Homo sapiens: one gene and its partners. The protein of the gene in region 3 purifies or fractionates together with the protein of the main gene of each other region. This does not show direct contact. Each region holds a gene or a part of one and is shown on either strand. Other genes may lie near its edges.

The links.
Region 1: the proteins of CSPG5 (region 3) and PTPN2 purify together in Homo sapiens (affinity purification with mass spectrometry; 2 studies listed by BioGRID and IntAct, with this or other methods). This does not show direct contact.
Region 2: the proteins of CSPG5 (region 3) and TMX1 purify together in Homo sapiens (affinity purification with mass spectrometry; 2 studies listed by BioGRID and IntAct, with this or other methods). This does not show direct contact.

The regions. Positions count from the first base shown.
Region 1 is NC_000018.10:12,828,525-12,832,272, reverse strand, and holds part of PTPN2 (tyrosine-protein phosphatase non-receptor type 2), read left to right. Parts: intron 1-1,231; coding exon 1,232-1,330; intron 1,331-3,748. UniProt on the Homo sapiens protein: Non-receptor type tyrosine-specific phosphatase that dephosphorylates receptor protein tyrosine kinases including INSR, EGFR, CSF1R, PDGFR.
Region 2 is NC_000014.9:51,238,288-51,242,035, reverse strand, and holds the start of TMX1 (thioredoxin-related transmembrane protein 1 precursor), read right to left. Parts: upstream 1,790-3,748; 5' UTR 1,744-1,789; coding exon 1,592-1,743; intron 1-1,591. UniProt on the Homo sapiens protein: Thiredoxin domain-containing protein that participates in various redox reactions through the reversible oxidation of its active center dithiol to a disulfide and catalyze dithiol-disulfide exchange reactions.
Region 3 is NC_000003.12:47,576,923-47,580,670, reverse strand, and holds the start of CSPG5 (chondroitin sulfate proteoglycan 5 isoform 1 precursor), read left to right. Parts: upstream 1-1,805; 5' UTR 1,806-1,977; coding exon 1,978-2,074; intron 2,075-2,431; exon of another isoform or gene 2,432-2,582; intron 2,583-2,742; coding exon 2,743-3,748. UniProt on the Homo sapiens protein: May function as a growth and differentiation factor involved in neuritogenesis. May induce ERBB3 activation.

The DNA of each region.
Region 1 (3,748 bases), on a different chromosome or scaffold from region 3:
TGGTGGCGGGTGCCTATAATTCCAGCTCCGTGGGAGGCTTAGGCAGGAGAATCTCTTGAACCTGGGAAGTGGAGGTTGCAGTGAGCTGAGATCGTGACACTGCACTCTAGCCCGGGTGACAGAGACACCATCTCAAAAAATAAAAAATGCTTTTAGTCTAGAACCACTTTAACCCCCTTGTTGTATGTGGGTCTGAAGCTCTGGGCAGCCCTAGCCCCCACTCCTGACTCTGCCCCTAACTCATACCACTCTGCTACATTCCATGTGAGTTGAATGCATGTTCATAGTTATTTTAGGTGTAGCAAAACTACATCTCATTTTAACCTTCTCATTTAAAACTCGTTAAAATTTGTACATAGGCTTTTCATCTCTTATTAGATCTTCCTTTTGCCCTATGCTATCATTAAAATGTGAAAGCAATTGGAAATACATGAAATATTTTGCTTTTATCCCCATGGCATTGTTGTAACATGGACTGTTGCCCCTTTTTAACTCTGCCCAATACTCTTCCATTGAGGCCGTACATACTGTGCATTTGTAGATTAACAGTTTCATTGTGGTTCAGGTACTTTAATGATTCCTACTTTTTCTAGAAATCTTTTTGTAGTTGACTTGAGTTGGTTGGCTGGCCAGTGATGGTACAGACTTTTTTCTCATGGATTTTCTATGATGTGTGGGAGGCACATCCTCTTGGCTGTAGAAGATGAAGAGGACAGAAATTTCCTTGGTCTACCTTCTTTGCAGCTAGAACATGATCAGTCAGATACTCCTACTCGTGATTTTGTCTCTGATTTGCCTATAGATTGTACATGAATACTATAGCCACCTTCATATGGCAGTGCCAGCAAAAGCAAGGAGATAGTAGTGACGGTATCAAGAGCAGCATCCCAGGTTGACTTTCTTTGGGGCAGGACCTTGCTTGTGTCTTAACCCTTGGTTCCTACCCAAGTTTGTCTCTCTAGTCCTCAACTCTGAAAGCCACTTGATATCTTACACAATTCCTTTTTTGCCTGAGAAAATAAAAGTCAGTTTTGATCATTTACAACCAAAAATCCTAACTAACACAGACCTGTTTTTGAAATCAGGTAGATTGGAAGTCTTGGTTTACTTCTTATAAGCCCGTCCGCTGTCTGTCTTGTAACATCCCAGGAGCAGACTTAACAAGGCCTTCCTGGAGCCTTGCTCTTTCTGTCTGCTTCCCTCATCTGCTCTCTCTCCTCTCTCTTCACAGGGTCCACTTCCTAACACATGCTGCCATTTCTGGCTTATGGTTTGGCAGCAGAAGACCAAAGCAGTTGTCATGCTGAACCGCATTGTGGAGAAAGAATCGGTGAGTAATATTTAATATTTACAACTTAGTATACTGTATGTGATCATTAGCATATAAAGATTTTCATTTTGGGGCCAATATTCATTCCTTAGTTTTGGCCTTTAATTGCTAAAGGCTAGCGGTCAAAGTGTTTCTGTCCGGAAAAACTCATGTATCCTTTTCCTTTCTTAAGTATTTTTATAACAATTGCAGACCTTTCATCTCCAAGATAGAAATACAATGGAATAAATATGGACTAGCAGTGACATATAGATCTTTGGAATCCCTAGGAATCCTTATTGACCTATTGTCAATAAGTCCTCTTCCAGCTTTAAGATCTTGTACTGTTCTACTTCAGATTTCTTACTTTATTCTACATTTCATAATTGCTGGTTTTTAATGATGATGAAAATTTCCTAATCCACTTCTAATTAGATGTGGCAATGACATGCCAGAATTTCCAGCAGTATCAGCATAGTCATTTACAGGGGTTTTTCCTGATCTTCAATATCATTTAAAAATTAAGGATTAGGCCAGGCACGGTGCCTCAAACCTGTAATCCCAGCACTTTGGGAGGCCGAGGCAGGCAGATCACTTGAGGTCAGGAGTTTGAGACCAGCCTGGCCAACATGGTGAAACCCCGTCTCTACTAAAAATACAAAATTAGCCAGGTGTAATGCTAGCTACTTGGGAGGCTGAGGCAGGAGAACCGCTTGAACCTAGGAGGTGGAGGTTGCAGTGAGCCGAGATTGTGCCACTGCACCTCAACCTGGATGATAGAATGAGACTCCATCTCAAAACCCACTGCACTGCAGCCTGGGCGGTAGAGTGAGACTCCATCTCAAAAAAGAAAAAAAAAAAAATCAAGGATTATGACATTGTCAGTTTGAGCACCATTGTAGACTACATGATTTGCAAATTTTATTTCTCTCATTTTGGAGTATAATTACTGTATTAATAAGATAACACTGCCACCAGAATTTAGAAATCATGTTTATGGTGGTTGAACCTAGATGGTTAACAAGAGTCAGGTTTAATTATTTTGGGGAAGATTACTTCAGAGGTGGTGGGTAATGTGTTATTCATCAAGAGACCCATAATGTCTGATTATTGTTCTTTTTATTTCATTAATAGCCATTATTGGTCAGTGTTCAGCTTCTTAATTCATTATGGGTTACAAATGATGATAATCCAATTCTGTCATTACTTCTCTTAAAAGCAGTTTTCCAAAAAAAAGTTGATTCCCTATTGAGGTCATCTGTTCTCAACAGATGACCAATTAGGAGTTTTTCTGGTGGAGAGTGGCAGGAGAGGTTGAATTATTATGGGTTTGGACATACTGGATTAATTTTACTCCTTTGCAGTTATTTTCCTTATTTTTGATCAAATTACCCTGTCATTGGCTAGCAGCAATGTCTTTAGGTTGGGTCCTGAGTCCTCTTTTTTTTTTTTTTTTTTTGGAGACAGAGTCTCGCCTGTTGCCCAGGCTGGAGTGCAGTGGCATGATTTCAGCTCACTGCAGCCTCCACTTCCCGGGTTCAAGAGATTCTCCCGTCTCAGCCTCCCGAGCAACTGGGATTACAAGCACCCACCACCATGCCCAGCTAGTTTTTGTAGAGATGGTTTTACCATGTTGGCCAGGCTGGTCTCAAGTTCCTGACCTCAAGTGATACGCCCACCTCGGCCTCCCAAAGTGCTGGGATTACAGGCGTGAGCCACCTCACCCAGCTCTGAGTCCTTTTTAACAAACCTTTAATAGTTTCCTTGGCTGGGTGCAGTGGCTCACACCTGTAATCTCAGCACTTTGGGGAGCTGAGTTGGGTGGATCGCTTGAGCCCAGGAGTTTGAGACCAGCCTGGGCAACATGGTGAAACTCTGTCTCTACAAAAAATACAAAAATTAGCTGGGTGTGGTGGCGCATGCCTGTAGTCCCAGCTACCTGGGGTACTGAGGCAGGAGGATCACTTGAGGCCAGGAAGTCAAGGCTACAGTTAGCTATGGTCGTGCCACTGCACTCCAGCCTGGGGACAGAGCGAGACCCTGTCTCAAAAAAAAAAAATTTTTTTTGCTGTCTGTAATGACTGCATCTCAGGCTCATCTCAAACTCTTGCTGCCCAGACCTGGAACCAGCCATTTCTCTAAGGAGTTTTGGTTTCTTTTAATGGGCAGCAGTATTTCAAGATCACAGCAAAAATAAGGATATATATTGCAACTGGACTGGTCATTGTTTTTAGGGCTTTTCAGTGGACAAAAGCTAAGGAACAATATGCATATGTTAAGATAACATACTTCAAGAGTTCATAATGATATTCCCAGTTCAAATTTGGAACTATAAGTGTTGCTTAGCCCCTTCCATCTTACATCTGCTATTTCCTTTTTCATACCAAGAATCCTGGTTCTCAAAGATATGAGAGATGTAAACTATCTTGTAATGACTCA
Region 2 (3,748 bases), on a different chromosome or scaffold from region 3:
TGCCTCAGCCTCCCGAGTAGCTGGGACTACAGGCGCGTGCCACCACGCCCAGGTAATTTTTTGTATTTTTAGTACAAACGGCGTTTCACCGTGTTAGCCAGGATGGTCTCGATCTCCTCACCTCGTGATCCACCGGCCTCGGCCTCCCAAAGTGCTGGGATTACAGGCGTGAGCCACCGCGCCGGCCAGTTTTGTTTTTTTAAAAAATAACACAGGACTTACTGATTTAGCCTTCTGGGTTCTCCCTTGGGGATGTCACTTTCACTGGCCTCCTTAACTTGACAACCCTTGCTGTATTCGTGACACAAGAAAACACTCACCTGAACCCTGTTGTCTTTTCATTTTTATTTATTTACTTATTTATTTTGCTAGTTGCCCAGGATCTCTTGAACCCCTGGGCTCAAGTCATCCTCATACCTCAATCTCCTGGGTAGCGTACGCCACTTCCAGCTGAACCTTTTTAAAGAAGAAGGTGTTCTAACAACAATTATTGTATGCCTACTCTGAAGACCCAAAGAAAGCCAGCACAGCAATATCTGCATAGGTTAACTAAAGTATTTAGGTATCTTGTTACTCATTTGTAAAACGTGAAAAACACCTGTCATAGAGAATTTGTAGGGAATTAAATATGGTATTCGTGTAAAGGTGCTTAGTGGTGTCCAGTACACTGTTAATAATTATGCTTTTACTATTATCAGTAAATACTGCTAATATGTATAATACCACCATCAACAACGACTTAGCATCTAAAGCAAAGACAGATACTTTATTTCCCACCGCGGCAGAACAGATATTATTAAATTGAAATCACCACACAAAATACATGATTTCGTTCGAGCAATAAATGATGACCTGGCGCTCTTGAGAGTGTATACATTAATACATTATCTTTTAATGTAATACCATTTACAAAGACCTAGGAGTCACAACCCAAGGTATTCTCTACACTACAAAGACACCCAAAGGAAAAATGAGATGAGGAGTGAAAAAAAGAGAAAGCAAAAGAGGAGGCAAAAAGAGAAAACGAAAACTTAAAAATAACCCAACTTGAATTGACTCAGTATTTACAATAAAAAAGAAACGTACCCAATCCATTAAAAAAAGCTTAAAAGCGCCAAATTCCAACACCATAAAGAGACTATCTTTTAAGGACAGACAAAACGAGAGGAGAAATTTTGCTCAATATTCTCTTATGTAAAATGTGGTGAAAATAAGTGTAGAAGTCTGTGAAGAATCACTTTAACTACTTAGACACGAGTCGGACACCTCCCTCCCCGCGCCCCAGTCGCATCCTCAAAGTCATGAAAAATGTCAGAATTCGCATTGGCACTAACCCTTTGGGCGCACCACAACCCAAGAAACGAAACGAGGGTGCACCCCAGAAGAAACTTAACATTCACGGGTAAGAGACGAGGGGGTGGGACCAAGCTGGCGGCAGATCCCAAGAGTTTGGGGAGCTGCAGAAGTCGGGGACGCTCGCTCCGCAACTCGGAGGCGCAGTCCTGGGGAGCCTGCGACCCGCACGAGGAACGTGCGGGGTGAAGTCGTGTGTCCAGGCACGGACGTAGGACCCTGGCCGCCCCGCACTCACAATTCTATCATCCAGTCTCCTTCCAGCAGTTCTCTCCAGTTCTCGTCCGTGATGACGCGAACGTTGCTCCGCCGCCCGTGCGTCCAGGGAGCACCCCAAAGCAACAGCACCAGGACTGCCAGGGGAACTGCAAGACTCCCGGAGGGCGCCATTTCGCCGCTTGCCCACCTCACAGGGAGCGCGGTCGCAGCTCCCACTTCCGCCCTCGCGGGCTGCTCAGCGCAAGCGCACTACGGTGCTGCGAGGAGCGCCTGTCTAGAGGACTCTCAATGCGCATGACAGGGGTCTGATCCCAGTGAGTGGTGAAGTCGGGAAAGAGGGAAGAACGACTCTCCGCAATGCGCATGACAGAAAAGCGGCTGCTTCTACCGCCTAGGGTGTCCCAATATTGTGGGGGAAGGAACAGAGCAAAAGGAGGCGTGGTGTAAAAAGTGGGGCGGTGCTTTGAGGAAGAACGGTTTAAAAGACCCTCCCAGGATTTTGGCGCCAAATGGTTAGCGTTTACAAGCAAATTGGTAAGTTTATAATGTGCTAAAGCAGTTTTCCAATTAAATGTCCTTCAGAGTTCTCATTTGTTTTCTTTGAAACATGTAGTAAAGCTAATGGATTTTATAGGAGTCGGAATATTGGTTTACTTCTGAGAGATTATAGACAGGGAAGGTGCAGAGGAACATTATGGTTATGTTGGATGTGTTGGAGGTGTTCAACATCTAGATATGAACAGTAGTTACATGGGCGTACGTATATGATTTTTTTTAAAGAAGGATCAAGCTGTACATTTTAAGACAGTGCACTTTATGCACTTTCAGGTGTATGTTATCTCTCAAAAAAAATTCAGTAGGTACAGAGATCCTAGGTCAGTACTTCAAAATGGAACCAGACACATAGGCTTGTAAGATATTTGAGTTTTTTCTCTCAAACATTCGTAAATACAAATGCAAACCAAAATGTGCACTGCCCCATCAGTCAAATGAAAATAGTTGCAGGTGCGGTGGCTCACGCCTGTAATCCTAGCAAAACAGGGAGGCCAAGGCAGGCGGATCACTTGAGGTCAGGAGTTTGTGACCAGCCTGACCAACATAGTGAAACCCCGTCTCTACTAAAAATACAAAAATTAGCCAGGCGTGGTGGCAGGCGCCTGTAGTCCCAGCTACTCAGGAGGCTGAGGCAGGAGAATCGCTTGAACCCGGGAGGCGGAGGTTGCAGTGAACCGAGATCATTCCACTGCACTCCAATCTGGGCTATAGAGAGAGACTAAGTCTCAAGGAAATAGTTGCCACTATCTTACCTCACCTTTTCAACTTAATTAACCCCAATTAGTCCCCTTCCCCACCCCTCCACTGAATAGCCCTCTCAAGGACACCAGCGACCAGCAAGATAAATCCCAATTGTTTCTTCTCAATGCATCTAGCATGACTCCTAGCCCCATTCTACCACACCCTTGAAACACTTTACTATCTTGCTGTCTGGGCAGCTCGCTTTTTTTTCTGTCCTACAGTAGCTGATTCTTCTCAAACTTCTTGGCTGGTCCTCCTTTACTTCCGGACATCGGCATCTCCAGGATGCTTTACTGCCCCCCGCCCCCCATCTCCCGCCACCTTTCTCTTCATATCATCAGGCTCTCATCTTTCTGGGAACTACAGGCATATGTATTCAACTGTATATCATTCAGACTCTGATCTTTCTGGGAACTACAGGCATATGTATTCAACTGTATATCATTCAGACTCTGATCCTTCTGGGAACTACAGGCATATGTATTCAACTCCTTGCTAAACATCTCTTGGGTATGTAATAGCTGGTGAAAGGAAAAGAAATCTTGGGGCCCCAAAATCATTAAGCTAAAGGGAAAAGTCAAGCTGGGAACTGCTTAGGGCAAACCTGCCTCTCATCCTTCTTCTCACTGAGATAAATGCATATCTGATTGCCTCCTTTGGAAGGCTAATCAGAAACTTAGAAGAATGCCACCATTTGTCTCTTACCCACCTATGACCTGGAAGCCCCTTCCTGGCTTCGAGTTTGTCCCGCCTTTGCTTTGAGTTGTCCCACCTTTCCAGGCCAATACAATGTTCATCTTACATATGTTGATTGATGTCTCATGTCTCCCTAAAATATATAATATAAAATCAAGCTGTGCTCCACCCACCTTAGGCACAT
Region 3 (3,748 bases):
CTTCCCACACAGACTGGCCTCAGGAAGGGAAGGAGGAGGTAGGCCGCTCTGACAGCCACAACCCGAGTTGAGGAAACAAGCAAAGGAACACAGAGAGTCTACATACAGTAAAAGGTGACAGGAGTTAAGCTGCACACAAGGGAAGCAGAGATGGGTTGGAGGCAGTTAAGGGTGCGTTGCTGCCTCTGTGGCTGAGGTGAGTGCAAAGCCCTACATGGTCCCCTGTTTAGAGAAGGCTATTGTTTCAAACATATTTTACTTGGTCCCCGGAGGCAGCATGAAACTATGAAAGAAAGAGCCTTACCCCTTTTTTCAAGGCTCTCCAGACCACAGTTCTGGGATGGGTGTGGGTGGTTGCCATTCGTTCATTTATGCCTGTCTGATATGGAGCCTCCCTCTGTTACCAGCCCTGTGCACTCAAGTGCCTTGCAGTCCAGTGAGGAATAACTGTAGATAAGATGAGATGATGGGCATTAAGTGTAACTGCTGAGAAGCCTTCATAGAGGGAAAGGTGATAAGAACTGAGTTTTTCTGGCATGAGGAGTTTACCAGGCAGGAGAGGTGGAGACGCTAGGCTAGGCAAATAGGCTGCAGCCATAGTTCTGCTGAGAAACAGGTTTTGAACCAAGGCAACTCCATCTGGAGATATGTATCAGAAAGATTAGGAGATAGAATCTCCATCTTGGTCACTTATTTGGTCTTCTAAGACAGCAATGGGACCGTCTCTTAAATACTGGAGTTGTCCTATCTCCTTGGGCTGATACCCTGAACTGTCATTTGGGTGAGTAACACATTAAGGGGTAGACGGTCGGTTTGGGGGAATAAACTAAGTAACTAGGTTGCGGTTCCTCCTGCCGACTAAGCAGACCTCCTGGTGCGTGGTCTTGGGTTGCCCTGTGAGCCCTGAAGCTGTGAATGGGCCCCACAGATCACTCTAAAGCCAAGCATCCATGTGTGCCCGGCTGGGGATCTAGACCCCCCTGGTCTACCCAGGAACCTGAGTTTTGGTGGTCTGAGACACCTGGGGGACGACGTATCCCGGAGAAGGGACCAGGATTAAAGGCCGCTCCCCAGGCTGCCCGGAGACTAGAAGGAAGGCGAGGTAGCCGCAGTCCCAGGGAGGGTCTTACCCCTTGCTCCCGGGATGCGTTATGGCGGGCCTGGCTGTGCGAGATCTAGGCTAGTGGCTTTGGCTGCGAACGGATTAGATCTGATCCGATTAGAGCCTGGGCGGTCGGCTTCGCCCCCTTGCCAGGCTCTGCCAACGCCCGCCCCTCCCTCGTGGAGACCCGGAGACCTCCCTGAGAGCCTTCCCGCCCGGAACACGGGATTGGTGCAGAATCCGAGAGGCTCCATGCGCCCCGGGCCTGGCTTGTTTCCACAGTGGGGGCTCGTGCTTCCGCCCCCTGCGGCTCTTCTGGACCCCGCCCCGACCCTGCGGGTAACTGGGCCCGCGACGTCCCCGCCTCCGTGCTTGCCGCGTGGCGGGTGGGTTCCTCCGGGTCGGGGCCCCGTGCCGCCTGTTCACCTGGGGCGGGACCGTGGCCCCATCCCACAGGTCTCCCGCCCGTGCACCTGCCGCCTAACGCCGCGCGCCGCGCCGTGCGCCTGCCTCGCGCTCCCCGTCCGCCTGCCCCGCACTCCCCGTCCGTGTGTCTCCTAGTCCCCAGCGAGGGGTCTGTCTGTTCCCCTGGCAGGCTGACCAAGGGGCCGGCGTCACCGCTACGTGCGGCGGGGCCGGCGCGGCGGGCGGGGTGAGGGCGGCGCTGAGCGCAGCGGCGGCAGCGGCGGCGCGGGAGGCGGGGAGGCGCGGCGCGCCGGGGACAGCGGCGGACGGCGGCGGCGGCGGCATGCGGCTCCTCGCGCTGCCCATCGTGGGCTGAGGCGGCCGCAGAACCGGCGGGAGGCGCGGCGGCCGGGCGAGCCGAGGGCGCAGCCAGCCGGGCGGACCGCGGACAGCGGTCGGGGCGCCGCGCCATGGGGCGAGCCGGGGGCGGGGGCCCGGGCCGGGGGCCGCCGCCACTGCTGCTGTTTCTGGGGGCCGCGCTGGTCCTGGCCTCTGGGGCCGTGCCGGGTAGGTATGACTGCGCCCGGGACCCCCGCGGCCCTCGTGCCCCACCCAGGGCAGGGGTCCCGCTGGCGGCGGGGACAGGTGGAGCTGTGAGCTGTGGCAAGGGGGCGGGGCACCGCCTGGCCGCGGCCGGGCGGCGGAATGGTCCCAGGAGGTGGTGGGGGTCCGGGAAAGGCCGACCCGCGTGGGGGCCGACCCCGGTTGGGGTAGCCGGGACCCAAGCGCGCGGGCCGCGGTGCGGACTGGGGGCGGGGCCGGGGGCGGGGCCGGGGCGGGGCCGGGGCGGGGCCTGAGGGTGAGACTTCGGGGCGGGACCTGGAGCTGAGGGCGGGAGCCAGTGGACGCGGCTCAGGGTGGGTTCCCGAGGGTGAGACTTATGGGTGGGCCGAGCTGGGGGCCGCCCTGGCCTGGCTCTTCAGACGGCGGGGCAGGTCGGGCGGGGCCGAGCCGCGAGGCGTTGGGCGGGGTGTGATCCTCGTCTTGGGGGCAGACTCCGGGACGGGGCTTAGAGGTACCGGGTGGCTGGGGTCACACTGGGGCGGTGGGGTCTGAGGGTGGCGAGGTCTGGGTTGACCAGGTCTAGGCGAGCGGGCCTGACCGGGGCGGGCCGGGGCTCCAGGGCTCCTCAGCGCGCCGCCCTGACGTCCCGCCCCTTGCCCTCCCGCCCGCAGCGCGTGAGGCGGGCAGCGCGGTTGAGGCCGAAGAGCTGGTGAAGGGCAGCCCGGCGTGGGAGCCGCCTGCCAACGACACGCGGGAAGAAGCCGGCCCACCAGCGGCTGGGGAAGATGAGGCGTCGTGGACGGCGCCCGGTGGCGAGCTGGCCGGGCCAGAAGAGGTGCTGCAGGAGTCGGCTGCGGTGACCGGCACCGCCTGGCTGGAAGCTGACAGCCCAGGCCTGGGAGGAGTGACCGCAGAGGCGGGCAGCGGCGATGCCCAGGCCCTTCCAGCTACGCTCCAGGCTCCCCACGAGGTCCTCGGGCAGTCAATCATGCCCCCTGCCATTCCTGAGGCTACAGAGGCCAGCGGGCCACCCTCCCCCACCCCCGGCGACAAGCTGAGCCCAGCTTCTGAACTCCCCAAGGAGAGCCCCTTGGAGGTTTGGCTGAACCTGGGGGGCAGCACACCCGACCCTCAAGGGCCAGAGCTGACTTACCCATTTCAGGGCACCCTGGAGCCCCAACCGGCATCAGATATCATTGACATCGACTACTTCGAAGGACTGGATGGTGAGGGTCGTGGCGCAGATCTGGGGAGCTTCCCAGGGTCACCAGGAACCTCAGAGAACCACCCTGATACTGAGGGAGAGACCCCTTCCTGGAGCCTGCTTGACTTATACGATGATTTCACCCCCTTCGATGAATCTGATTTCTACCCCACCACATCCTTTTATGATGACTTGGATGAAGAGGAGGAGGAAGAGGAGGATGACAAAGATGCAGTAGGAGGTGGAGACCTAGAAGATGAAAATGAGCTTCTAGTGCCCACTGGGAAGCCTGGTCTGGGGCCCGGGACAGGCCAGCCCACCAGTCGGTGGCATGCTGTCCCTCCACAGCACACTCTGGGGTCGGTCCCCGGCAGCAGCATCGCCCTCAGGCCCCGCCCAGGAGAGCCAGGCAGGGACTTGGCCTCCAGTGAAAATGGCACTGAGTGCCGCAGTGGCTTTGTGCGGCATAACGG